Homo sapiens: one gene and its partners. The protein of the gene in region 1 interacts with the protein of each later gene in a pairwise test. Each region holds a gene or a part of one and is shown on either strand. Other genes may lie near its edges.

Region 1 (7,268 bases):
CTACGCTGCTTCTCCAGCCTGAAGGTGCTTCTTTTTTTTTTTTTTTTTTTTTTTAAATGGAGTCTTGCTCTGTCGCTAGGCTGGAGTGCAGTGGCGTGATCTCAGCTCACTGCAACCTCCAACTCCCGGGTTCAAGGATTCTCCTGCCTCAGCCTCCAGAGTAGCTGGGATTATAGGCATGTGCCACCATGCCCAGCTAATTTTTTTGTATTTTTAGTAGAGACGGGGTTTTCCCATGTTGACCAGGATGTTCTCAATCTCCCGACCTCAAGTGATCCACCTGCCTCAGCCTCCCAAAGTTCTGGGATTATAGGCATGAGCCACCACACCCGGCAGGTGCTTCTATACCTAACTACTTCTTCGTGCATCTCTGACTTATGCTCCTTTGAGTAGGACAATTCAGTCAGGAAGGGATACCAAGCTGGTGAAAGGCATTTTTTTCAAAGTCGCAGTCCTGGGCTGGGTCTAAGGATTTCTGAATCTGGATGGGAGCCTTCCTGCTCCGCCTCTCCCAGGCTTCCCAGCTCCTGTGTAACCCAGGCGACCTCTGAAGGTCCAGGGAAACTGCTACTCTGTAGTGAAGTCCGAACTTGGCATCCCTTCTCCTTGACCCACACCCCTGTCCTCATTTGTCCCCTCTGCTGTGTCTTTGCCTCTGCGTCCCAACAGGGAGGAGCCCTGATTCCGCAGCACCTGCAGCCCTCTCCCAAATGCCCTGCGCACCACTGAAGAAGAGAAATAGAAGAGCAGGGGGTCCAGACTGGCGTTGAGTGAACTGAACACCACGGCTATTGACCGCCACCAGGGGCTTTTTCTCTGGTGATACCCCACCAGGTGGGACACGTTGTAAGGTCCGAAGCACACCAGGAAATTGAGCAGCGTCACCACAGCCAGCCCCACGGCTCGGCGCCGCCTCTGGGCCCCCACAAGGGGCTGGGAGAGCATGATCCACACAAAACGCCAGTAGCAGAAGATGGTGACTGCCATGGGGATGAAGAAGAGCACCAGGCACAGCTCCAGCCGCACGGGCAGCACCACGTCCAACTGGTTATCGGTGAAGTTCTCGTAGCAGGTAATTTCATTGCCACTTCTGACCTGCTCAGTCGTGTTCAAGTATTGAACGATGATCACGATGGTGCAGTGACCAAAGGACATAACCCAGGCCACCAGAGCTGCAATCACTCCATACAGAGGCCGGCGGGAGAGCTTGTACTGCACGGGGAAAGCCACTCCCAGGTAGCGCTCGATGCTGATGCCCGCCAGGAGCCACGTGCTGCAGTAGATGCTGCTGTAGAAGCCAAAACTCGTGAGGGCGCAGACGACCTTGGGCAGGTACCAGCGGAAGTTCGACGCAGCCTCGATGATCTTGAAGGGCAGCAGCAGCAGCAGGAGGAGGTCGGCCAGCGTCAGGCTCAGCAGGAGGATGTGCACAGGTGCAGGCTGGGGCTGGCGGATCCGCCCCACAAAGGCCCGCAGGGCCAGGAGGTTGGCAGGGAGGCCAGTGAGGAAGATGATGATGTAAGCCATGAGGATCAAGGAGCTCTTCCAGTCCGGCAGCATCCTGGAGGGGAACAAAAAAGGGCGGGGTCAGGGAGGTCTCACTCACAGCCCGCGCAGCCAGCTCTCCTTCAGGATGCGGACATCCTCCCCGGCACCGTCCCCTTCCCAGGACTGTGCTTTCTGATGCCACCACGGCTTGCTCACACCACCTGCTCGAACTACCCAGAGCAATTATTGACTTTGCCTGGGGCGGGATATTAAGCAGTAGTGATTATGTTTGCCATCATGTGTCTCTGGAGGAGACCAACTCGTGGCTTCCCAAGGGAATTCCCCCTCCAGTTTCCCTAGCCTTTCTCCTCCTGTCCTCACAGATACAGGAAGTTACTGTTGCCAGTTTCTAACTTTACTCAAGTCCCTTTCTCAGACAGAGACCTGCAGGAGAGAAAGGCATCAGTGCCGGGAGAGAGCTGTAAGATGCTTATCAGTATAAAGAGGCTGTGGCGCCCCAGGCGCGGATACCCAGTGCCAGCTCTCCAAAGGACCCAAGTGCCCAGCCACCAGCCCAGCTTCCTACTTCCGTTCGTCTGTTTTGCAGAGCACAGATTCTCCCCCACCTTGTCCTCTCCTGTCCAACACCAAACTCTGGGACTCTCTAGAAAAGGGGAAGCTGGGGCTGGGCGCAGTGGCTCACTTCTGTAATCCCAGCACTTTGGGAGGCCGAGGCGGGCAGATCACCTGAAGTCAGGAGTTCGAAACAAGCCTGGCCAACGTGGTGAAACCCCATCTCCACTAAAAAAAAAAAAAATTAGCCGGGTGATATGGCGGGCACCTGTAATCCCAGCTACTTGGTAGGCTGAGGCAGGAGAATCGCTTGAACCGGGAAGCAGAGGTTGCAGTGAGTCAAGATTGCGCCATTGCACTCCACCCTGGGCGGTAAGAGCAAAAACTCCGTCTAAAAAAAAAAAAAAAGAAAAGAAAAGGGGAAGCTGGGAGGCTTAGAGGAGGGTGGAGGGGAAGAAGGATGAACCAGCACTAGCCTTAGGAGGAAGGCTTGTCCCTAGAAGACCTTAGAGAAATATTCAGAAAAGCCCACAGGCCTTCACTGGCCCTTGAGCGTGGCATTCTGACCATAAATAGAACTCGTCTTCTTCACGGGGTAACTCAGTTTCCACTTGGGGTGTCACCCTTGCTGGCCCCAACCCAGGTCCTGTCCCTCTGTCCACTCTCCAGCCTTGATTTCCTGGCTGTTTCCTTGCTCCTCACACTAGCTCCTGTCTCTGGGTATGAGTCTTCCATTTGGTTCTGACATCCTTCCTCCAGTCTCCCAGAACCTTCCCCTCAAACCTGATCCTGGCCTCTCTTCCCAGAGCACAAGCACTACACTAGCTGCCTTGCCTTGTGTTGTTCCGGATAGGTGGCTTCTTGGGATTGGTTCTGAAGGGAGGTCTGCAAGCTTCCAGGAGAGAGGAACAGAGCTTTAGCCCCTGCTTCTGTCCATGCCATGCAGGAAAAAATGGTGAGGAACCTGGCTGGTAGTAAGCATTTATACTAGCACCAGCCACGTGACCAGAGAAAGGAAGGTCAGTCTTTAAGCACTATTTCCTCTCAAACCCAAAGGAAAGGCCCAGCATCTTTATTCTCTCCCTAGAGAATCCTCACTCTTGACTTCCAAATTCAGATTTTTCTGTCCTTAATTCCTGATTTAAAAAAAAAATTCCCAGGCATTTTTCTTTTTTTACTTCCCAAGTCAGATTATTTTCTTTTCTCTTTCTTAGGCAGTTTCTTCTGTCATTCTGCTCATTCTCAGAAATGAGCTTTCCTCCTTCCTTTTTATTTTTCCTCTTTTTTTTTGGTTTTTTTTTTCGAGGCTGAATCTTGCTCTGTTGTCTAGGCTGGAGTGCAGTGGCGCCATCTCAGCTCACTGCAACCTCTGCCTCCCGAGTCCAAGCGATTCTCCTGCGTCAGCCTCCCTGGGATGACAGGCACCTGCCACCACGCCCAGCTAATTTCTGTATTTTTAGTAGAGACAGGGTTTCACCATGTTGGCTGGTCTTGCACTCCTGACCTCAAGTGATCCGCCTGCCTTGGCCTCCCAAAGTGCTGCGATTACAGGCGTGAGCCACTGCACCCGGCACTCCTTCCTTTTCTTCTTCAATTTTTTTACTTTCTCTATGGTCTCCTGCCCTCTGCCCCCAACACATTTCTTTTGCCCGTCTCAGCTGAAACAGGCTGGTCCTGGCCTGCATCTTGTTGTGATGGAAATGGTGTGGGAGTTATAGTCATGCAGATATGGGCTCAAATCCAGGTCCCTTCATTACAACCTTGGGGGCAGATCCGTTTTCTGAAGTCTAGTTTGCTGTAGTCAAGTGAGCATGCGAATTCTGACATCCTAGGACTTCTGCGAGGATTCAGTGAGGTTGTGTATATAAAGCACTTAGCAGATGCCCGTAAGTGCTGCCTCGTCTCAAGCCTGTAACGCAGCTTCACAGAGAGTGAGCCACTTGGTGCAGCCTCCAGAGGCTCAGGGCATGGATGTGCTGTCCCTCTTGGGAAAGTGTCAGGAATTCAGGAGGCCCGAGTTCACGTGCCCATGTGGCTTTTCGTCAGGGAGTGGCACTCAGGCTCCATTCCTTTCCCTGATAAAGTCTCACTGTTTCCCCCTCTCTGACCTTGGTAGCCCCAGGTTAGGAGCTCCTGAAGGTCCCTTTGAAATACACACCTAATGCAGCAAGGATCGTTGGAACGTGTTTTCCTCTTGAACTAGGGAGGAAGTCTCAGAAAGAAGTCTCTGTTCTGCCATCTGTGGCCTGATTCCTGCTCACAGAATCCCCATTCTTTCCCTAGGACATACCTACTTCCTATTGTTTGCCATTCATTCAGTCATTCAGTCAGTCAGTCATTTATTCTTTTTGTGGTCTGTAACCCCAGGGTCTAGACATTTTGATATTTAGCTTTTCTTTCTCGTCCACTCTACTCTCCTCTGAAGGCGTTCTAGTTCTTTATTTCCTTCCCCCAGCACACGTCGCTTCTCAGATCAACAGGAGAACTAAGAAAGAGACCATTCTCTCTTGTTGCCACCAAATTTATTTGTGTCATTTCGCTTTTATGATTTCCTATAAACATGCACGAGGATCTGGATTTAATTGCAGAATCCAGGAAACTCATTGGAAAACAAGTGTTGAGGAGTGGGACTGCCTCTCTGTCTCTGCACGTTCTTCTCCCCCCACCTCCTGCCTTTCGCCGTCACTGTCGTGAGTCCCCCTGTGGAAGACGCCCCAACGAAACCCCCTCTCTGGGTTCACAGCAGTTATGAATGTTCACCGCAGTTATGAAGGGAGCATCACCAAGGAGGCTTTCAGTCTCACAGTTCATGATGTCCACCTACGTCACAGGAAAAGGAAACCCAACCTCTCAGACCGAGTTCAAGGGGGTAAACTTTCACAAGAGCAATATCCTTCACAGTTCCTTCCAAGTTCAGTTTTCTCTCATCGTCTTTATAATGCAGCCTGTCATCACAGGAAGTTGGACCCTTATCTAAAGTTCTGTGTAATCACTTCCACATTCTTAATTCTCACTCGCCCCTCAGTCCACCCTAATCTGGGTTCTGTGCCTATTTTCCATGGGATTTTCTCTTCCCGATGTTAGCAGTGACCTCCATGTTCCTAAATTCAGTGGACTTACGCTTTTCTTATTTTATTAGCATTCAACACAATTTCCACGCCCTTCTGGAAACATCCTCTTTTCACAAATTCTGATACGTTACGCTGCTAGCTTCCCTCTCTTTCCTTTGGTCACTTCTCGTACCCCTTTGCTAGCTCACCATTCCCCTACTCATCCCCGAAATGGTGACTTCCTTCAAGCTTGGCTCCAGGTTCTTTCCTGTTCTCGCCTGTGCTCTCCTTCTAGTCGACTGCAACTGTTTCCGTAGTTCCAGTTACCACCTTCATGACACCCCTGGTTTGAATCTTCACCCTAGGTTTCTGTGAGCTTCACATGTACACGCTCAACTGCCTAGTTGACACTGCCATTGGGTGTCTCACAGGTGTCCCAAATCAACCAAATCAAATGTGTCCAGACCTGGCCTCAGATCTTCCTTCTTCCACCCTTCCCTGTCTTGGGGCGTAAGATCTCTTCCCATCACATCTCCTGCACCATTATCTTAGAGTCAGTCTTTTTTTTTTTTCTTTTTAATTTCGAGACTGAATCTCACTCTGTCGCCCAGGCTGGAGTGCAGTGGCACATAGTCTCGGCTCACTGCCACCTCTGCCTCCCAGATTCAAGCAATTCTCATGCCTCAGCCTCCCGAGTAGCTGGGATTACAGGCATGTGCCACCACACTCGGCTAATTTTTGTATTTTTAGTAGAAACGGGGTTTCACCATGTTGGTCAGGCTGGTCTCGAACTCCTGACCTCAAGTGATTCGCCCGCCTTGGCCTCCCAAAGTGCTGGGATTATAGGCGTGAGCCACTGAGCCTGACTAGAGTCAGTCTTAAAGTGAATCTCAATATTATCTTCTTCCTTATCCCTAGAATGCAGTCTGATGTACTCCCCAAATACTTATGGATTCCAAATATGAATCCATCCATCCGTCTCCATCTCCATCATCCCATCTCAGTGCCATCATCCCTACCAGGATTTCAGCAGGGCCCTGACTCACTTCCTCTCATCCATCTGCTTCCCTGGCAGTCAGTTCTCCATACTGTATTAGTGGAATCATTTTAAAAATGTCAATCCAATTATACGACCTTCTTGTCCTTTCAGAGACTTCTCACTGCTTTTAGGAGAAATATCAACATCCTTAAAAAGGCCTGCCTAGCATGGCCCTTGCCAGCTTCCACTCACATCACTCTTCTCTCTCTTTGCTGTCTGGGCAGGGCCATTTTCCACTTCTGTGAATGTGTCATGTTTTCCATCTGCCATGGGGAGCTTGAACCAGCCCCTGCCTGGTATGTCTTTATTTCTTGTTACCCATTCCAACTTTCACAGTTAATTTGTAGCTTTCTTTCAGATAACCATTTACTTCCTTAAGAAATCCCTGTCTGGCTGGGCACAGTGGTTCACACCTGTAATCCCAGCACTTTGGGAGGCCGAGGCAGGTGGATTACCTGAGGTAAGGAGTTCGAGACCAGCCTGGCCAACATGGCGAAATCCCGTCTCTACTAAATATACAAAAATTAGCCGGGATAGTGGCGCACGCCTGTAATCCCAGCTAGTCAGGAGGCTGAAGCAGGAGAATCACTTGAACCCAGGAGGCGGAGGTTGCAGTGAGCCAAGATTGCGCCACTGCATTCCAGCCTGGGCGACAGAGCAAGACTCTGTCTCAAAAAAAAAAAAAAAAAAAAAAAAGGCCCTGACCTCCTAGATTTCGATTCCCCTCTTACAGGTTAAGCATCTTTTCTATTGCTGAATAGTATTCTGTTTTAAGGATATTTCCTATTTTATTTATCCATTCATCTGTTGATGGATATTTGGTTGGTTTGGGTTTTTTTTAAAAAGTTTTTGTCTAGTATGAATACAGCTGTTAAGAACATTCTTGTGTGGAAATGTTTTCAGTGCTGTTGGGCAAATACCTGGCAGTGTATTGGCCAGGTGGTATGGTAAAACGTTTTATTAACTTTTTAAGAAACTACCAGTTTTCCAAAGTAGCTGTGCCATGTTGCATTCCCACCAGCAGCCTACGAGCATTTCAGTTGCTCCACATCCTCACCAACACTTGACAATTGTTAGTTTTTAATTGTGGGCATTCTAATAAGTATGCCATGGTATTT
Region 2 (7,025 bases), on another chromosome or scaffold:
TCCTAAGACAAGTCTCCACTTCTTGTGTTACAGATCAATAAAATAAGAGCTAGTTGAACCAGATGGCCTTAAGGTTCTTTCTAGATATGGCCTTGGAATTTGTGACTTTATCTTGGGACATCACAGTGGAAGCCCCATAAATTTTTATAGCCTAGGAACTGTGCTTTTTATATTGGCTGGCTTGGAGCCAGTAGGTGCCCTAATAAGTAGCAAGTATAACACTAAATATAAATGCTAAGTGACTTGCAGGAAGAAGAGGACATTTTTAACCATTTTCCCCAAATTGGAAAACAAACTCAGGCTTTTCTTTCTGATTTTTATCCCTATGATTGGGACCAATAATAAAACACAATGCAGTGGACAGAGCAGATAGGTAGTAATGGACGAGTGCCTTGATATTCCTCCTTAGGGAGCTTACATTCTACCTTGGAAACAAGATATACACACACCAGCTAACTAACTAGGCAAGATATTATTGCTTGCCTTACACCAGAAAAACAATCTGAAACATTTTTTTTCCTATTTTATTTTTCATTCAAGTGCCTGATCTTGAATTAAATAGTTTCCTAAATTCAGCAAAAGAAATGCAAACGGCATAAACGATCTGCCCAATTCATTCTCTTCAAAGTTGCATTCTTTTTTAAATAAAAATTGGAATTTTTGCCAAGAGAATTCAAAGTAAGAGAAACTGTTTGCAGTTAGTGATTACAATTCCTGAGGAAGAGAGCTCAAGAAAACAAGATTAAGGGATCCAAGTTTTTACTCTGAAGTTTTAAAATGAATTATTCAAGTTAAAATAAATAATTCCATTGGTAGCTATACAACAGTGTGTTTCGAAAAGGCTTCATAAGTTGAGCTTTCAAAAATTAAATTATTTGAGTACATTAGGGAGATTTTTAAATTCTATAGAAATAGAAACAAAAAGTAGAATAGGGTTATTGCTGGACTGGGAAAAGGAAGAAATGGAAAGTGACTCAAAATGGGAATAGAGTATCTCTTGGGAGTGTCCTAACATTAGATAGTGGCAATTATTGCACAACTAAAAACCCATACTTAACCCCACTGAATTGTAATAATCATAATGCTAAGGGTAACCGCAAATGCCATTTATTTGCCGTTGACCGCTGGGAGACTTACCTGACGCAGTGCAATGGGACCCTCAGCGTCTTTAGAAATGGAATGAAATGGGCATATCAATACCCACCTCCATAAAATAAAAAGTATTAAGATGCCCTTTTTAAAAATCCTATAGCGAATACACATGTCATGTGAATCATTTTTTAAATCTCTTTTTATCTTTTGTAGAAATTATAAGATTCTAGATCACATTGGAACCCTCACATTCATTCTCTTGCTTGAGTAAAGGTGGGTCACTGACCCGAAAGTGAGAGCAGAAAGGTAAATGGGACATGGTCTGTCCCATCACCATCCCTGCTAAGGCACTGGCTTCTGACGTCCTCCTTCGCATCTGGCTCTCCCATATTGTCATCTTCTTGGGCAGGGATCCAGTCCCATTCAAGTTGGGGGCTCCCTGGAAGCAGCCACCTAACTCTACACATAATTGAGTCTTGATAATTGTTCTTTAGTTGACTTGGCCTAAACTTGTTAAAGAGAACATAGAAGGAAACTTTGAAGCCTCTTTTGGATTACCTCTTGTGCTTGGCACTTACATGTATTTTCTCATTGAATACTCACTACGACAGTGAAATCAGTTTCATTTTAGAGATGAGAAAACTTAGTCAACTGGAATGTCTTTTAAAGGCTGAAGACCTTTCAGCCTGCAAGATCCTAAATACTGGTCATCATATTTGCCTTTTTCACTCTGTGGCAGGCGCTGTGTTAAGTGCTTTTCAGGGATGGCTCATTTACTCTACAATAAATCAGAGATAGGCACTCATATGGTTTCCATTTTAAAGATAAAAACACTAGACTTAGATAAATTAATTCACTTCTGTCACATAGCAAGTGACAGAGCAACATATCGCATGTCGGTGTGTACTTTTAAGCACAGTGGAGCATAGTGGTTCTCAACCTTGTGTCAGCACCTGAGAACTACCTGTGCATTCACATATACAGCGACACATGCACTCACATACACTCTCAGCCCTTTCCCTGCACCTTGACTGGTATTTCTCCAACCTGGCTGCATGTGACAATCAAGTGGAAAGCTTTTAAAAGTACAGATTCCAGGGTCCTACCCCAGACTAATCAAATTAGAAGTGGGAGAGTGAGCCTCTTTGGGTAAATAGGTTTTTTTGTTGTTGTTGTTTGTTTTTGAGACAAGAGTCTTGCTTTGTCACCCAGGCTGGAGGGCAGTGGCATGATCTCGGCTCACTGCAACCTCCACCTCCCAGGTTCAAGTGATTCTCCTGCCTCAGCCTCCCGAGTAGCTGGGATTACAGGCATGCACCACCACATCTGGCTAATTTTTGTATTTTTAGTAGAGATGGGTTTCACCATGTTGGCCAAGCTGGTCTCGAACTCCTGACCTCAGGTGATCCACCTGCCTTAGCCTCCCAAAGTGCTGGGATTATAGGTGTGAGCCAGCCACCGTGCCGACCATTTGGGAAACAGGTTTTTAAAAAGCAGAGTAGGCTGGCCCGAGTTCCAAAGCACCGTGCTAGGAACCATCTAGAGTTAAAGTTCCTTCTGTCACTCATATTTAGGCTAATGGTTTTAATTAGGTCCTTGAATGAGGTAAATGTCTTACATGATTATTTATGGATTCCTGCATTTAGCCTTGTCCTTTGAACATAAGAAGTGCTAAAAGAGAACTTGTTGAATTGAATAGAAAGCAGTTTTCAAGGAAACCTTCATAGGCAGCAGAGCTTAAAGAGTAGCAACATTTCTGTTTCAGTTAGTAAGCCTAGTTCTGTAGAAGAATGGCTCATGCCTGTATTGTCTTATTTTTGTGCCTAATGGGTATATTTAAGGACTTGTATATCTTGGCATTGCTGTATAATACTAATACCAATGGAGAATGGAGTCATTTCTGGTAAGTAGCAGTATATTAATATGTAATAATACAATTACATACCTCTCACCAGCTTCAGGTAAATGCCTTTGGTCAAGATGAAAATACAGAGGCCGGGTGTGGTGGCTCACGCCTGTAATCCCAGCACTTTGGGAGGCCGAGGCAGGTGGATCGCAAGGTCAGGAGGTGGAGACCATCCTGGCTAACACAGTGAAACGCTGTCTCTACTGAAAAAAAACAAAAAAATTAGCCGGGCCTGGTGGCGGGCACCTGTAGTCCCAGCTCCTCGGGAGGCTGAGGCAGGAGAATGGCACGAACCCGGGAGGCGGAGCTTGCAGTGAGCCAAGATGGCACCACTGCACTCCAGCCTGGGCGACAGAGCGAGACTCTGTCTCAAAAAAAAAAAAAAAAGATGAAAACACAGAATACGAAGGCAGGTGAATATTGGTATTATAGGAAATCTGGAAGCTTCAGGAGAGCAAAGATAACTGCTCACTTTGTTCTTCTTCCAGCGATTGAGCAGAGCTGAATGGAAGACAAGCTCAAGAAAACCTGAACATTTTAAATGACTAGTTTTCAGAGTGCCTCAAGATGAATGTCAGGAGGAAGTTTTTAACTTTGTAAATTTGTTCCTAACAATCACTGTTGAATGTGGGGAATCTTCCCCAACTGTTTCACAGATCACTAAAGAGACTCTATTGAATTCCACAAACATTTTTTGAGTGCCTAATATATTCAAAACACTGGGTTAAGAGCTGTAGAGAATAGTAGACTACGGCAGTGTTTTTCAGTCTTTTGTTCATTATGCCTCCTCCAGAATACTTTTTAGACGTTGTTTTCTTAATCCCTCCCCTGCCATAGATATAGTGTGTACTGGTTCAGGTACTGTATGTATATTTGTACTTTATTGTTATAAAAAGAGTAAGATATCTCCCCCATCCCAAGAACCAATTTTGCCCCGTTGCTGGGCACCATTTAAAGTAATGTTCCTATCATCAACACTGGGTCCATTTTTCGTTTGACAGCAGTCTTGGTGATTCCTGGTCAGGAGGGATATATAAACATTCCAGGAGACCTGAGCATATTTCTGTCCCTGGGCTTTGCTACCTAAGCTGACTGGGATCCTGATTAAAGACCTTTCTGGTGAAGCAAAGATCCCAATAAGAACATATGACCAATTTCCTGCAGTTTACTAGGAAAGCTGTATCGTAGTTCTGGGAACAAGTGTGTCGTCACAGTAATTCTCACTCATGGCCTGATACACGCAAGGAAGAGTTAAATAAGAAAGCTTGACATTCTTCTCTGTGAGATCAATGCTAAGTATATGTGATCCAAAGGCTATGAACATTGAGATAAAGGACAGTGGGTAATTGAAATCCATCCACGCTGTTATTCTGGCCCTCTAATTAGAATGCATTTTAGTGTTCTGTATCTCAGTTTTTGTGCCTTCACCCCCTCTTTTATTATTCACTATACAGGAAGCATCCAGGATGTGGGAACATTGTGACATTTGCACAATTTTTATTTATTGCTGTGGAAGGCTTCCTCTTTGAAGCTGATTTGGGAAGGAAGCCACCAGCTATCCCAATAAGGTATGGTACATTAGAGTCTCTTTTAGCTTTTGGATTTTTTAAGAAAGTAAAGAGGTGGTACCTGTATAAAAGGAGGATGAGACATTCTTTTATAAGATTTATTTCAAAGATACCAGTAGAATAATAAGTCATTTTCTGAATTTAATATGTTGTGAAAATCCGGGGTACCTACTTCGAAAATAAAATTTCTGCCACAAGATTTAAAATAACCATGATGGAGACAAGAGTGTGTATGTGTGTGTGTTCTTATTTAGTATAGGATTAGTCAGAAGGCCTAGTGTGACCACAAATTTTGTGCTGTCTTCTGTGTTGGTGAAGTTATCAAACATTCTAAAAGGGGAGTATCCTTGTTTCTTTTTAAAAACGAATGGCTTTTGGAAATAAATAGAGGTAGTAGTTACATAACTTTGTGAATGTACTAAATGCCACGGAATTGTTCACTTTAAAATGGTTAATTTTATGTTATGTGAATTTCACCTCAATTAAAAGAAAATGAATGGCAAGCAAAGTCAAAATTTGTTGATGCCAGACCTGTAGTACATTAGTCCAAATGTGCATAATTGTACTCATGGGGCCAAATAGAAAACAGGGCAGTTCTTATGTTAAACAGTGTATTGAAAACTCAGCCTTCTTGCTGAGAGTGACTTGAGATAAAAGTGTAATCCATCCAGTTGTGAGTATTTAGTAGGATGATGTCACTTACTCCCGTTTAGAGCGACATTCTGGTGTGAATATATCCAAGTATGAAGGCAAAGGCCCATCTTTGTTGGTTTTCTTTTGCAGCATTCTTACGTAGCCTGCTATAGAAAATCTGGCTGAATTTTGTTAATATTATACTTTTAAAGTTCCCAGTGCGATGCTAAATATTCCAGATACTTTTAGTTTTTCATTTGCTTTAGTATCTGCATAAAACTTTCTGCCCCTAAAGACCAGCATTTATATTGCAGTAAAAGCCCCAGCATTTCTTGACTCCTCTGGCCCTTTCCTGCCTCTTCCCACTATCTCTCCCCATTCTCTCCACCACTAGCATAGATCAGGAAGTATACCCTGTCACCATATCTTTTATAATAGCATCCTAGCTGGCTGACTTCCCTGCCTCCCACCTCTTCATCCATCAATTTCACTTAATATCGTTTTATCATGTCGCCCCACTCTGTGGTTACCACGATGTTCTGAATGATGTCCAGACTCCCCATCCTGCCCTTTGAGGGTCTCTGTGATCTTGCCCTCATAACCATATTCTCATGCATGTCCTATGTGTGTTGGCCATTTTATTTTCTGTAGGTGGAGCCATAAACAAAATTTTGCTCATGTCGTTCATCCCCATCCACAATTTCTAGGCAAGCAATGTGGAATAGTTAAATTAATTACCCTAAAAGACCTTGACAAACTCTGTAAATGGCACCTCTTCAAGGTAGAACTAAGAAAATTTGGCAAGAAACTTTGTAAAGTCGCTGATAGTATATTATTTAGAAGCTGTGAAGAAGCTGTTGCTGGTAATTTTGCATATGTGTTCATTGTCAAGTTCCTCAGACTTTCCAGACTATATTAATTCAGCCTTGGCTTGACTGCCTGTTGTGGTGTATGGCTCCACACCTAACTAGCAACGCAGAATCGGTTCTTTCAGGGAAGATCACTTAGGACTCAGTGCTGTCATATCCTTCAGATGTGCAAAGGTGGAAAATGGTTGGGAATCTCCAAGATCAACATTTCCTGAAGAATATGGAACCACTTATTTGCTTTTGCCCTGCATTCTTTAGCCATTTATTTTAAATGCTGTTTTTTTCTCTTACTCAATATAGGAAGTTGAGTCATATGAAATTTCTGACATTCAACTCTTTTTGACCTATAAAAACGGCAATTTTATATGGTTTGGCCCAATATATGTAGAAGGCATCTTATGTATTTTCTGAATCACAGTGATGACATACAAATGTAAAATTATTTGTTTAATCCATCTGTTCATAATAATTCATTTGTATTTATCCCTTTAAGTTATTAGGGTTACTGGATTTTTTTTTTTTTTTAGTTTTTGTTTCTATTATTTTAAGACCTATAAACTTTCAAAAAACAGAGACCCTGATTTTAAATAAAAATCTGTACAAGTCAAACCATGTCCTCATTAATTTGGAGGCCACTAGTTCAGAATGCGGGAGAATTTTAGCAGCTGCTAGGCTGAAAATAATCCTTAACTTAGCAAATACTTTCTTTAGAAACAGCGAAAATTAACAGTACAAACAAGTGTATAGAGGAGGTATTTGAGAAAATCAGCCATTTTCAAGTTCTTCAGAGGTATATGAAAATTATTTACAAAGAATCAATACAATCATTTTAAGTTGCTATGTATACTTGAAAATTTTTAAATAGTGTTTCTTTAAATGTATTTTATAACTTAGATTTTCCCATGTTAGTCTGGCTTTGTGAAGCGTTTTGATATGTACTTAGTAGTTGACATGGCA
Region 3 (6,448 bases), on another chromosome or scaffold:
GGCTCACTGCAACCTCCTCTTCCCCGGGTTCAAGTGATTCTCCTGCCTCAGCTTCCTGAGTAGCTAGGACTACAGGTACTCACCACTGCACCCAGCTAATGTTTGTATTTTTGGAGGCAGGGTTTCACCATGTTGGCCAGGCTGGTCTCGAACTCCTGACCTCATGATCCACCCGCCTTGGCCTCCCAAAGTGCTGGGATTACAGGTGTGAGCCACCACTCCTGGCCCCCTAGTACCCTTTTTTAAGGTGTATTTTTCTGTTTTGGCTTTTTTGTCACTTTTAAAAAGCCTTTTGTTTTTCAGGTAATTAAACATCTGAGTGCTAAATCTTTATGCCAGGTGGGGAGGCATGTGAATGGAGGCGAGCTGGTGTGCCCACCCCTCCCCCATGGGCCTTCACACATTCATTCACGCGCACACACTCACACAGAGGTCCAGAAGCTTCTATCCCACTCTGCCGCCCTAGTCATCATATTATGCATTCAAATACACACTTCACATCATACCTTCAGAGTTACTAATAGGATTTTATTATTTAAGTGTAAAATCAGTTTCCCCCCCTTTCCCATTTCTCTGATTTCTAAGGAAAAACGGCACCAGGGGACCCAGGAGGGTGGTCCCATTGGGGTGAACCCTAACTCCACAGCCCTGCTTGCAGACTCTTCCTCCCCACCCTGGGCGTCCCTCCTCTCCCATGCCCTAGGGCCTCAGTCACTCTTCTCCGTGGGCTGAGGCTGGTGCACTGGACAAAGGCTGTCCCTCCACAGGTGGTAGGTGAGGGCTGAAGTCACGGTGAGCCAGGCTAGGTAGGGCAGCAGTAACAGGGCAGCCAGTTTGTTGATGGGATGCCAGATCAGTGCTGTGCTCACCACCAGCCCATACAGCAGCAGCAGGTGCAGCAGGGCCTGGGCATAGAGGCCGGGGGTCAGCTGGCTGCCCGAGAACCAGCACCTCCACCTTTCTGCAGTACCCAGCCCAGCAACGAGCTCAGTCCCTGGGGCTCTGTGCACACCATGGGAGTGCAGAGAAGTCTGCCCACCCATTACCTGCCTGCACTCAATTGCTCTGCTGAATTATGTGCTTCTGGAGCCAGGTGGTTTCACCCTCTCCCACATTACTTCTGCTACTGAGCACTGTGTGCCTTACCAGACCAGGGTTGTGGACTGTGAAAAAGAGAACCAGGACAGTCCAGCTGATGGTGAGCTGAACAGCATAGAGGCCAAGAGGCAGGGCCAGGGGCCACCCCAAGCCCCCTCCCAGGTCCTTCCACACCAGGTAGGAGGCATAGCTGTGGAGACATGGTGGCAAAAACATTCAGTGGGAGGAGGTTCCGTGGCAAATGGAGGAGGCTCTCTGGCATAAGGACTCTTGGATACCCTTGTGGGCTGAAATGGGGGCAGATGGGTTTAGGCATCATGTAAGGGCCAGGGAGGGAGTTGGTGGGAGGAGCTGGGCATGGTGAGGTGGAGGAGGGGCTGGGGAGACTTAGAGAGGGTGGAAGAAGGGCTAACTGGAACCCCAGGCAGGCATAGAGGGTTTCTTACTTTCTGGAGGACCCACTATGGTGGTGAGAGGCAAGACAAAGCGCCTACCTTTGGAGGCCAATATATGGGAGTAATTCAGATATAGAGGACTTGTTCCCACCCCATTGGGTACCAGGGCCATGTGTGAGAAACAAGTACTCACCCCACGACAGAGTAGATGGCTGTCTGTACAAGCAATAAGACTTTGTAGAATGGGCACCAGGACAGCATCCTCGGGCCCTCACACCAACCAGACATGTGATCACGAGTGAACAGCCAGACCAGGATGGGCCCCAGGTGGGGCAGGAGCACAAAGATAGCCCCTTGAAGCCGCATTCACCTTGAAGAGGCAAAATCTGGGGAGGCAGAGAACATGCTAGTGATGAGCCTTCCCCTGCGGCTCCTCGTCTGTCTCTGCCTCCTAACCTGACTCATTTCCTGGCCTGAGCCCCTCAGAGAAGGTCTACTCACGGAGGTCCTTCCTCTCTCCCTGGCCCAGCTCCAGTCCTGTACCTCTGAGCTCTCTCCAACCCCAGGCCACACCTTGCCCATCTCCTGGCTTCCATGGACTTCTTTTCTCCACAGCACTCCTCTGGCACTTGGAGGACACTGCCCAGCACTGGTAACTGCTTCTAAGTGAATAGGCCTTCCTCCAAGTGCTTCTGAGTCCTGGAGATCAGGTCCCGGGTGATGAGCTTTTCTGCAGTGGGCAGCGCTTAGCCAGGTATGTAGCTGGCCCTCACCGAGAACTGTTCTACCTAAGCTGATCTACCAACCTGGAAAGTTCACAATCTGAAGGCAGGAGCCAGAAATTCCTGGGGACTCTTTTCTAGTCACGAATGCGGCAGCACATCTGTCCCAGGCTTATCTCACCATATCAGACTGGCACACTCATGGGGCCCACCCAGGCTGATCTCCTGCCCAAATTCAAACTTGGCCTGTTGACACCGTGGATTCCTTTTTCTGAACTTTTAGCTCTCTTCTACCCCTGGAGCCATGGGGTATGAGCTTCCTGCTCCATCTTTCCATTCCCAGAGTGTCAGGATGTAAGCACAAGCATCCAGGTTTCTTGTGGCCTGACTTTTCAAGGAAACAACTGCCTGGTCTTTGATTAAAAAGCTGCCAAGGTGGCATGTTGCTTTGCATGTCATTTGCATGTGGGACAATGTACAGACCCTCCTCCAGCCAAGGCCCCACCAAGGCCCCACAAATATCATTCTTCTCATTTGTTCATGATATTTCAGCCTCCCCCCATGATTAACCAGATTTGAAGGAGAGAAAACAATCTGATTATTTTCAGTATTCTGGACTGACTATCTAATCCATCCTTTTTTTTTTTTTCTTTTCATACAGAGTTTCACTCTTGTTGTCCAGGCTGGAGTGCAGTGGTGCAATCTCGGCTCACTGCAACCTCTGCCTCCCTAGTTCAAGTGATTCTCCTGTCTCAGCCTCCCTAGTAGCTGGGATTACAGGCGTGCGCCACCATGCCCGGCTAATTTTGTATTTTTAGTAGAGATGGGGTTTTGCCATGTTGGTCAGGCTGGTCTCGAACTCCTGACCTCAGGTGATCCACCCGCCTTGGCCTCCCAAAGTGCTGGGATTACAGGCATGAGCCACTGTGCCTGGCCCTAATCCATCCTTTTCTGTCAAGGGTCAGGGACACTGGTCCTGGAGGTTCTGGGACAGAGCTGAGCAGCATGCCCACCTGTGCATATTTCTACTTGTCTTTCTGTGCTCCTGACTGTCCGTTTGCTCATCTTCTGCCTTCCTGTTTTTCTACATTTCTGTCCAGTGGTGGAGGCCCCCTCCCTGCCCCTCCCTGCCCCCATCCTCTTTTCTCCTGACACCTGCCTCTCCCAGTGCCTCCTGGTTCCTAGGCCTGTGCTCCCCTTACCTCTGGCAGCACACCTCCCAGGCGGGGGGCCTGATGACATATGATGTGTGGAAGGCAGAGGAGGGTGGGGCTGGGAGGAGGGTGGGGCTGGGAGGAGGGTGGAGTGGTGCTCCCTGCTGATCTGCCTTTCTCAGATGAGAAGGGTGGTGACACTGGCTGGGAAGTCCAAGTTGCTGTTTCATGGCCCCAAAGAGTTCCTCTCAGGAGGAGCCCCTCTGGTCTGCCAGACCCTCCTTGGTGCCTGGCCTCTGGAGGCTACCCCTTGATGGAATGTTTGAGGGCTTGTGGTGAGGGTTTGACACTGGCCCTCCTGTGACAGCTCAGCCCCCAGTTATAATGCTGTTGATGCCTGTGGTCTTTGCATCCCATGAACCAGCTCTGTGGCCATGGGAGTGAGTGGTAGGAGCCTTCACATTTCTTCAGAGCCTCCTTATAATTGGGATTGTCCCCAAGAGTGGCAAGAACTAGCTTGGGAAGTGAGTTCATAATCCATGAACACAGCCCCTGGTTATAGCCTCCTGGTTGGCATGACCTTCCTGGCTTAGAACCCTAGCTTGACAGATCTTTCACAAACCCCTAGGACTTTATGACTCAGAGGAGAAGGCAGCTGACAAGTGGAGGTGGGTGGGGAGTCAAGGAGGAGTGACCTGGCGCTTCCTGGCAGAAAGTCCTGCCTCCCAGCCGCCCTAAAGAGGGGTAGGGGAGAGTGTCCCTGTCTGTTGGCAAAGTCCAGCCTCCTGTGTGACTCAGACAGAGCTTTGTTCAACAAAGACAAACACCCCTACCCCACTCCTTTCATTCCCTATCAAAGTTCTGAGCACCCCTTCCTGGCTTGTCTTTAGGCATGAGGTCTGCTTCCCAGGTTGCCCGCTCTCTACCATCTCTGCACTTTGGGGTACTGGGCTCCCCTGGGAGGTTTATTCCACCCTCTCACCTCCACCAGGGAAGGAAGCAGAGGGGAGGGCATTGCAGTCAGAGACAAGAGGCTAGAGAATTATTAACTGAGACAAAAGCAGAGGAAGTTACTTATTTTCTATGGGAGATGATAACTAGGGGCCTGGGGGGGCGTTCACCATGCCTCCTCAACTGCAGGAGGCCAGACCCTGGTGACAACGGTTACCATCTATTGACCACCCATTCTGTGGTGGGCATTTGACATTTATTAGCTCAATAATGACAATTATTATCTCACACAAGGTAGATATTCTTAACTGCATTTGACAGACAAGGGAATTGAGGTTCAGAGGAGTTAAGTAGCTTGCCCAATATTACATACCCAACGTGTGGCTCACCTGGGCTCAGTGTTGGCCAGTTGGAGCCAAAATGCATCCTTTTCCCTCTCAACTGCTTCACTCATTCATTCAAGACATGTTTATTGAACACCTTCTATCTATCAGGCTGTACCAGGAGCTGAGGAGACAGCCGAAAACATGGGAAAAGTTCCACAAGGAGTTTTCATTCTTGTGGTGCCACCGCTCCTAGGCAGAGTTTTAAGAACTCAGAATGGCAAATGGCCCCAAAGTTCAGTTGTCTCCCAACCGGCAGTGTCTCTGCCAACTTTGGGTGGGGGAAGTAGAAAGCACCTTGTGTAAGGAAAAATATGGGTACATCTCAGGTCCACCAGCAACTGGTGAGTCATTAACCGTCTCAGTGGCTCCACTGTCTTCTCTGTGTGGGGAGCGGGTGGAACTAGATGCTCTCTAAGCTCCTTGGACCGGTTGCATTGGCATCAGCTGGGAGCTTCTTTGAGCTGCAGAATCTCAGGCCCCATACTAGACCTACAGAATCAGAGCCTGCATTTTAACAAGATCTCCCAGGTGACTGTTGTGCACATTATAGTTTAAGAAACTCAGATGAAGGTTCCCTCCTCCTCCTATCTGCTATTTTAATAATAGCCTCTGGCTGGGGACAGCCACTCACCAGCAGAGGGCACTGTAAGGAGGGGTTTCAAGGTGCAGCACCTACACCCAGGTTGTCTCCCTGCCTCCCTCCTTCCTTCCAGACCTAGACTGGAAAGTTCACTGACTTCTGGGATCCTCAGCTAATCCCTTACCTGGGCTGGACTTTGCCAATAGACAGGGACACTCTCCCTCACCCCTCTTTAGACAGCTGGGAGGCAGGGCTCTGCCAGGAAATGCCAGGCCACTCCTGCCTGGATTCCCCGCCCACCTCCACTTGTCTGCTGGCCTGCCGACTGAATCTGGCTGACCCTTGTTTCTCGGAGAAGGAACTGGACCAGCCAGCAGCCTCTAAGAGCTCCTAGACGGTAAGTTGAGCACCCCCTTGGGGCAGCTGGAGAGGGGATGGGCATTGTGATGGGGTTACCTGGAGCTTCGGGGGAGGAGCCAGGCCAGCTTAGCCTGCCTGCTGGAGTGTAGGGACCCTCTGCTGGAGGAGGGGAGGAAAATGGGACTTGGCCAATGGGTATGAGGACCACTGGGATGATTCTGTGTCCTGCGGAAATGTCTACTATACTAACAAATGCCATTCATGACTTGGGTTTGGACCATCCATCCCAGTACTTGTTATGTTCTGCAGTAACTGGACATCTATCAGGTGTTGGGGAGGCACAGGGAGAACCAGTGAGGTGGAGGAAAGGTTGAGAGTTTTCTTAAAGGGTATGAGCAGAACTTTGCAGCAGGAGTTTGGATCTTTGTGCTGGAGGATGCAACTGCCTAGGGACAGGTGATGGCAGCATTCTAAAGGACTCTCGTTTCGGGGACCCGCTACCCAGGGTGATCTGGGGTCTGGAGCAAGACAGACTGGAGGAGTGGGTAATGAGGAGTCCAGGCATGGGGTTGGGATGCCCCAAGTCACACTCGAATGGCTGCAGTGCTATAGTTGCCATTCAGCAAGACTCCGGACCTTTCCCCATTCTGGAGCCAGAGGGAGGATGCAGTGAGGGCCAGGGCAGCCTGGAAGAGCAGTCACCCTGGGAGAGGCCCAGTGGGGCTTTGGGAGTGGTGCATGCCAACTTCTCCAGGGTCGGAGGTTGAGCCAGGGGACTCTACTGCACCACCCAGTGAGGTGC
Region 4 (7,083 bases), on another chromosome or scaffold:
CCCGTCCACAGAGGAAAGCACTCTGCAGCCCTCCCTAGCCTGGGGAAAGCTCAGCATAGCTGTGGCCAGAGCCAGCCTCCCGGAACCCATGGACAGGCAAGGCAGGGAAGGCCCAGCCTGACCACATCTATGGAGACCACAGCACCAGAGGGGCCGTCTCCTCTCAATCCTTTGCCTTCAAAACAATCATGATGAGAGGCAATGAACGGCCCCAACTCAATGTCCAGAGAGTGAGGCCCAGAAGCTGACGGGATGGGCCCAAAGCCCTGAAGGGACAGATGTGGTGCGTGCCCTGCCTCCTGCCTCTAGAGGCTATGGTTCTGGACACAGAACCAGGCTCAGAGTCGAGGTTGGCGGCATCCCATCTGTTCCCTCTTCCTGCAGGCTACAAAAATGAATGACTCTGGCCATGACAAGTACTGGGTTCGTGTTCTGATTTTGTCCCTAGCCGCATCATTGTCTTCTCTGTCGAATACATGGCAATGAGAACACATAGTTGATAGGGACAGGCGTGCTCCATAAACAGATACTACTGTATTCATGCTGGTTGGATCTAAATCCTCAAGTTAGTCCCATGGCCCATTCCGCTCCAGGGCTTGGGGAAGTAGCTCACCCGGGGGCTGTGCCTGGGTCTCTCTGTCCAGTGGAACGATAGGGGGTGAAGTCTGGAGGCCAGCCTTGAACCAGAGCAGCAGGAGCATCCGCAGTACAGCCCTGGGTCGGGGAGTATGTCAGGGTTGTGGGGAGGTGGCTAGCCGGCGGGAGGCCAGGGATGCTCTGCTGAGCACCATCTGTGTAGCTAGCCTGCGTCACCCCCACCCAGGACCCTCTCCACAATCCCAACCTACTTGGCCAGCTGGACGAGGGCGATGACAAGCCAGCGGCCCACTTCACCCCACACCTTGGCAGCTCCCATCTCCATGAACACCTCCACGCACTCCAGCACGCTCAGCCATGTCAGCAGCTTCTGCTGGGACAGCGACTGCAAGAACCCCAGGCCAAGAAGTCAGGGGGCCTGGGACTACAGGGAGTCCCAGGCCCTTCTCCTAGGAGGGAGCTTCTCTGACAAGAGATGTGGACCTTCCCCTTTCCAAGCCTAACTGTGCAGGTGTGAGTTCAAACACCAACTCCACCATTAACAGGCTGGGGGACCTGAAACAGCTGACTCTACCTCTCTTCACCTGAGACAGTCTCTTCATCTAAGATGGGAATACTCACACTTTACAGGTCACCTAATGAGATGGTTTGAGGCTCAGATGGACATAGGCCTGTCTCATACTCCATGAGACATGTGCTGCACGCATGGGCTAGCTGCTACTATTTCATTCCTGAGTCCCCATGCTTCCCACCCTGTTCTTGGCAGAATTCTCACCACAGGCAACTTTTTCCGAAGCTCCTTCCGTAGGATCCCGTCATTGAGCAGCACAAGCAGGTTAGAGGCAGAGTACACTGAGGGGTAGAGAGTGGCCTTGAGAGGCTGGCTCTGCAGCCTCCATCCCTCTCACCTTCTCCCCAGAGCTGCAGGGATCACCTGTCACATGCTCTGCTCAGACACCCACAGACTATGTGGAAACCAACCTTCTTCTCCACCCACTTCCTCAGCACTCCCCTCTCCCCAACATGATCTCACAAGGGTGGCTGGACCAAGAAAGGATGGGTCAATCTCAGTGACAAGCCAGTTACTGCCCTGCTGGATGGCACTGGTCATCCAGCTGCCCACAACTGCCCATCGCTCTCTGAACTGCCACAGATACACGGTCCCACCTCCTGGCCCTTTCTCTCTTGGCAGCCTGTTCCTGAGGGTCTATTCCACCTCCACTTTTCTTTTTTCTGAGTCGGAGTTTCACTCTTGTTGCCCAGGCTGGAGTGCAATGGCACAATCTCGGCTCACTGCAACCTCTGCCTCCCAGGTTCAAGCAATTCTCCTGCCTCAGCCTCTCAAGTAGCTGGGACTACAGGCACCTGCTACCATGCCCAGCTAATTTTTGTATTTTTAGTAGAGATGGGGTTTCACCATGTTGGCCAGGCTGGTCTCGAACTCCTGACCTCACGTGATCCACCTGCCTCTGCCTCCCAAAGTGCTGGGATTACAAGTGTGAGCCACTGCACCTGGCCTCACCTCTGCTTTTCAAAACCCAGTGCATTCTTTCAGGACTGTGACAGCAGTCACTGGGCAAACACTCTTGAGGTAGTTACAATCTGGGAATCCTGGAATCTGGGAGATCTAGACTTGAATCTTGGTTCTGGGACCATCAGTGACTGTTCTCTAACCTCACTGAGCTTCTTCCTTAAATGGACAGTGATGACAATAAGTACCACTTAATATGACTGTAGGGAGGATTAACAAGTAAAGGTAAGAAAGGCACTTAGTCCAGCGCCTGGCCAGTAGTGAATACTCAGATAAGGTCCCCAGACGTGTCTCTTGACTTAGGGACATGGAGGGCCCAGGACAATGAACAACAGACCTTGTGCCGATTCAGTCATAGCACAAGGTGTCTAACGGGCAGCCCAGGTCCTCGGGCTGGGGTGCTCACCCTCTCTGGGGAACTCACCAGGGGCCAGGCAGCCGATCCCCCATCCCCCACCCCCAGAGCCCGGCTCACCCAGCTCTGACAGCTCGTGCGAATCGGCGAATCGACCTGGGGAGAGGGTACAGAAGGAGGTGTGAGTGAGCATCTGCCTCACATTTCGTCTTCGGGTCCCGGAAATCCCCTCCCTACGCCCTTTGGGAACCTGGACGGGTCTTCTCAAGCACAGCGATCACTACCCTGACTCCGCAGGGAAGGGGGCCACTGGGGTCATAGGTCAGGGCCCAGAAGGAACTGATCAAAGGTCAGGGTGGCACCTGCCAGCAGGTAACTGAAGCCCCGCACTGCTGTCTCCAGCTGGGCCGTGGCGGCCGGGTGACGAGTCACGTACTCCTGGTAGCGGAGGCCCAGGAGCCGCAGCTTCTCCATCCTGCCCTCGGCACCGACAGACCCACAGAAGGACCGTACGACAGGCTGCGGCGCCCTGCTTCCTGCGCCCTCCTTCCTGCTTCCGGTCTTAGGCCCGCCTCTTGGTTGCTTAACTTCCGCGGGCCAGAAGGCTGAGGACTTGAAGAACCGGTGAACCACCCTTCACCCCATCTCTTGAACCGCTTCCCACTCGGGTAGCCCTTAGCAACTGAGGGCCCAAACCCGGCCCCCTACTCCCTCAAGTCATTGGTTAGCACGCTCTCCGCCCCTGACCCGCCCAGCGCCGTCAGCACCCAGCTCTTCCGTTTACCGGGTTGGCTGCCCTTGCGCCTGCGCAGTTAAAGCTCCGGTAAAGCCGGGCGGCAGTCAGAGCAGTTCATTCTAGAGAAGGGAGCTGGAGCCCCGAGTCTTTCCAATGGAACGCCGAGAGACTCGAACGGCAGGGCCGGATTTTAAAGGGCTGAGAGATAGCGGGTGCTTGAAAAAAGGAGCCTCGATCAGATTTGGGGAGGTGCGGGGCGTCTAAATACAGTTGCACTGTGTCTCAGCAGGCGCGCGTTCGGCCAGTATCCCCATCTCCGTTTCCTCAACAAAGGTAGTGCTGGGGAAACTGAGGCAGTAAGGAGTCCAGCCCTCTAGTGCCGTCTCGATCCCCTAGACAGCACAGTTAGTGCTCCGGCTTCGGCCTCAGCTCCCGTATGGACTGTGCCCCCCAAAGGGCTCGCGCCTGCATTCCCACATACGCGAAGAAAGCCCTGGCCCGGGCTTCTCTCGGCTCGGTGGCCCTTGGGCGGGAGTATCCCTTCTCTGGGTCTCGGATTTCCCGATCTGTAAAATGGTTTGAGGGCAGACTTGATCCTTGAACTCAGAATCGATCTCAGCTTTCTGGCCCTCGGACGCACCTCGCAGTCCTCAGCTGCGCCCCCAAGGGAAGGGGAGACCCCTGGGGAGTATCTTCCCAAACCAAGCAGCCTCCCTGGAACGGGTGGCACCGGGAGATCTGCGGCGAGTGGTGGAGGGAACGGGCGCTCTGGGGAGGTAGCGCTGATTGGCTGCGGGGAAAGGGGCGTGACATGGGTGGAGCCGTGGGCCAGTGGCCTGAGGGAGCGGGCCAGCGGATTTATGGTACCCTGAGAATAGTAATACATTATTTTACCTAATCCTCTCCACCAGATATCTCCAGATGAAGAAAGCATCCTTTTAAGAACGCCCAGCCAAAATTTGAGTGTTGGTCTTTTCTGACCTCAGAGACTAGGCGGTTTTTTTTAATTCATTTTTTTTAACTTTAATTTTATTTTTAGAGACCAGGTCTAAGCATCACACCTCACCAGGAAACCACAACCTTCCTTCCACTCCCTCACTCCACCCTACTCCACAGCTTAGTTTTCTTCTCTATCAGGTGGGGGATTAAAGCTGCCCTCTTCTCACATCAAAGAACGAAGACCCAGGGAAAGGTGACCAGGGGCCTGAGGAGAGGCAAAGGTCTTGGAGAACAGAGGAGGTGGTCATGGGCATCGTCGACATCATTTCTGGCCACGCTCTGGGTTCCAGGCTTGCTTGCCCTCCTCCCAGCAGCCCCAAGTTGCTATGAACTGTTCACAGATGGGAAATTAGGGCCCAATAAGGAGGGGAAAGGATTTGTCCCACATGGCACAGCAAGGCACTGGCCAAAGAGGCCACAGCGCAGGTCTCCAGTGGCAGTGCCCTCTCTCCTACTGCCCACAGCCCACAAAAGCTGTGACATGTTGAGGCTCCTTGGTCATAAGGCCAGTTAGCAACTGGGATTAGGACCTAGGCTCAGGGCCCTCAAGGTGAGGCTCCTTCTCCCTTCCTCTGCCCCACCTTGTTTTTTGTTTGTTTGTTTGTTTGTTTTTGAGACGGAGTCTCACTGTCGCCCAGGCTGGAGTGCAATGGTGCAATCTCAGCTCACTGCAAACTTTGCCTCCCAGGTTCAAGCAATTCTCCTGCCTCAGCCTCCCGATTAGCTGGGCCTACAGGCGCCCGCCACCACGCCTGACTAATTTTTGTATTTTTAGTAGAGACGAGGTTTCGCCATGTTGGCCAGGCTGGTCTCGAACTTCTGACCTCAGGTGATCCGCTTACCTCAGCCTCCTAAAGTGCTGGGATTATAGGTGTGAGCCACTGAGCCCTGCAGGGCCCTGCTGTGCACCAACACCTTAGTGAACTTGTTCCTCAAACCTCCAGTTTGGCCACTCCTCCAGCCCTCCCTCTGCAGCTGTGGAGAGGGTACAGAGAGAGAATTTGAGGTTCTTCAGCACTCCTTGGGCTGGAGGTCCTGATTCTGAGAGCAAGGTGTGGAGGGGAGAGGGGCAGACTCCCCAGGACAGAATAGGAAGGGGCTTGGGCTGGAACCAGTTTCTTCTCCCTCCCTGCAGAACTGGGAAGGGGAGCATGGGTCTAGCCAGCTTGGCAGCAGCAGGGCTGCCTGAATTTCCTCTCTAGATCCCAGGCCGGATTAGGGCCCAGAGACAAAGAGTTGCGGTGTGTGCAGGAGGCCCCTCCCCTGCTCCCTGGCCCCCTGCCTGGGCTTGGCCGTCTTTGTTGGGCTGGAAGGACCTTTGGGCAGATTGAGCCGTATCCTCTCTCCTTCAGTTTGCCCCAAGTCACAGGGGAAGAGAGGTAGACCAGTCCAACATTTACCTACGAGAGTACCAGAGGCCCAGAGATGGAGCCTCACTCGTCTAATAGGGTCACACAGCAAAGTCCTGGGCAGAGCTGGGTCAAAATGGGTCTTAGGCCAAGAGGAACAGCACCTGTTTATATGCCCATACGTGTCCCTCTTTCTCCCTCCACGCCCCCAGAACAACCCCTTGGGGGCCTAGCAGGTATCTCAGCACTTCAGTTTCCCTGAGTGGTGAGGTTGAGCCAGAAGAAGGGCCAACATTGTGAGTGACTACAGTGAGATCTGCAGACCCAGCTTCCTGCACTGACTCCCCCAGCCCCTTTATTGAAGACTCATCCTGGGCCAGCACCCAACTATGGATCCCATATGGTGTTTGTTTGTTTTTAGAGACAAGGTCTCACTCTGTCACCCAGGCTGGAGTGCAGTGGTGTGATTACAACTCACAGCAGGCTTGACCTCCTGGGTTCAGGTAGTCCTCCTACCTCAGCCTCCCAAGTACTAGGCACATGCCACCACGCCCAGCAATTTTTGTATTTTTTGCAGTCATACAGTTTGGCCGCATTGAGCAGGCTAGTCTCAAATTCCTGGGCTCAAGCAATCCACCTGCCTTGGCCTTCCAAAGTGCTGGGATTACAGGCATAAGCCACTGTTCTGGCCTGGTCTCACATGTTTAACCCCCACAAACCGTCTCTGTTGAGGGTCCTGGAGAGGGAATCACATTTCCCCACCCCAGCTTTAGGCTACAGATGAAGATCAGGGAGGCTGGAGGCTCAAGCTCCAGACGCCTGAGTGGCCAGTGCATGGCCCTTCTCAATTTCTGGGTGCACAAGGAGCCACCATCAGTCTCCATAGCAACCATTATCCCTGCCCTCCAGAGACCCAAAGCCTGACCTTCCCCATCTCCCAGAGAAAGGGGGTCTCAGGTTGGGCTGCTTTCCACAGCTTCTTTTGAGTTTGCCTCACTTTTTGCAGCCAGAAGTTGGGCAAATGACACAGCCTGAGCCCCCTTTCCAGGTCATGGGAGGGGAGATTCTCATTCCAATCCACTTTCAACAGGTATTGAGCACTTGGTATGTGCAGGCCCTGGTTGGGCACTGGGGACTGGACAGACAAGGTTCCAGTCCGGTGAGCAGCTTACATTCTGGGAGGGAGACCTGCAATAAACAAGCAAACAACTTCAACTTTCCATGAGTGCTAGCCAGCCCTGGGAGGCTCCGCTGCCAGAAGGAACGTCAAGGGCAAGTCCTGGGGCGGGAGACCCTTCCGGAGGAGGAGCAAGAAAGCTGCTTCTGCAGCGCAGAGCCTGGGGAACGGAGTGGGGCCGCTTGAGACGGGAGGGGCCGGAGGGTGTTCTTGTCTAACAGGTCACTTAAACTCTCCGGGGGAGAATTAGCCCGCATCATGGGATTAATCGAGGGTGATTAAATCCTTAGCACAGGGCCTGGCACGCTGTGCTGGTTTAGGGTCCAGAGCGCCCCCCAC

What was found.
Region 2: the proteins of FFAR2 (region 1) and SLC35B4 interact in binary tests that used the Homo sapiens proteins (3 or more experiments, as listed by UniProt).
Region 3: the proteins of FFAR2 (region 1) and TSPO2 interact in binary tests that used the Homo sapiens proteins (3 or more experiments, as listed by UniProt).
Region 4: the proteins of FFAR2 (region 1) and PEX16 interact in binary tests that used the Homo sapiens proteins (3 or more experiments, as listed by UniProt).

Annotation. Positions count from the first base shown.
Region 1 is NC_000019.10:35,444,007-35,451,274, reverse strand, and holds the start of FFAR2 (free fatty acid receptor 2), read right to left. Parts: upstream 3,019-7,268; 5' UTR 2,896-3,018; intron 2,453-2,895; exon of another isoform or gene 2,330-2,452; intron 2,234-2,329; exon of another isoform or gene 2,075-2,233; intron 2,057-2,074; exon of another isoform or gene 1,933-2,056; intron 1,562-1,932; 5' UTR 1,561-1,561; coding exon 568-1,560; 3' UTR 1-567. UniProt on the Homo sapiens protein: G protein-coupled receptor that is activated by a major product of dietary fiber digestion, the short chain fatty acids (SCFAs), and that plays a role in the regulation of whole-body energy homeostasis and in intestinal immunity.
Region 2 is NC_000007.14:134,306,907-134,313,931, reverse strand, and holds part of SLC35B4 (nucleotide sugar transporter SLC35B4), read left to right. Parts: intron 1-4,452; coding exon 4,453-4,566; intron 4,567-7,025. UniProt on the Homo sapiens protein: Antiporter that transports nucleotide sugars across the endoplasmic reticulum (ER) membrane in exchange for another nucleotide sugar.
Region 3 is NC_000006.12:41,038,397-41,044,844, reverse strand, and holds TSPO2 (translocator protein 2), read right to left. Parts: upstream 2,379-6,448; 5' UTR 2,067-2,378; exon of another isoform or gene 2,037-2,066; intron 1,880-2,036; 5' UTR 1,860-1,879; coding exon 1,687-1,859; intron 1,289-1,686; coding exon 1,147-1,288; intron 906-1,146; coding exon 708-905; 3' UTR 508-707; downstream 1-507. UniProt on the Homo sapiens protein: Cholesterol-binding protein involved in the redistribution of cholesterol from lipid droplets to the endoplasmic reticulum. Required to meet cholesterol demands during erythropoietic differentiation.
Region 4 is NC_000011.10:45,914,855-45,921,937, forward strand, and holds the start of PEX16 (peroxisomal biogenesis factor 16), read right to left. Parts: upstream 3,024-7,083; 5' UTR 2,958-3,023; coding exon 2,846-2,957; intron 2,640-2,845; coding exon 2,604-2,639; intron 2,288-2,603; exon of another isoform or gene 2,145-2,287; coding exon of another isoform or gene 2,120-2,144; intron 1,450-2,119; coding exon 1,373-1,449; intron 983-1,372; coding exon 849-982; intron 715-848; coding exon 614-714; intron 1-613. UniProt on the Homo sapiens protein: Required for peroxisome membrane biogenesis. May play a role in early stages of peroxisome assembly. Can recruit other peroxisomal proteins, such as PEX3 and PMP34, to de novo peroxisomes derived from the endoplasmic reticulum (ER).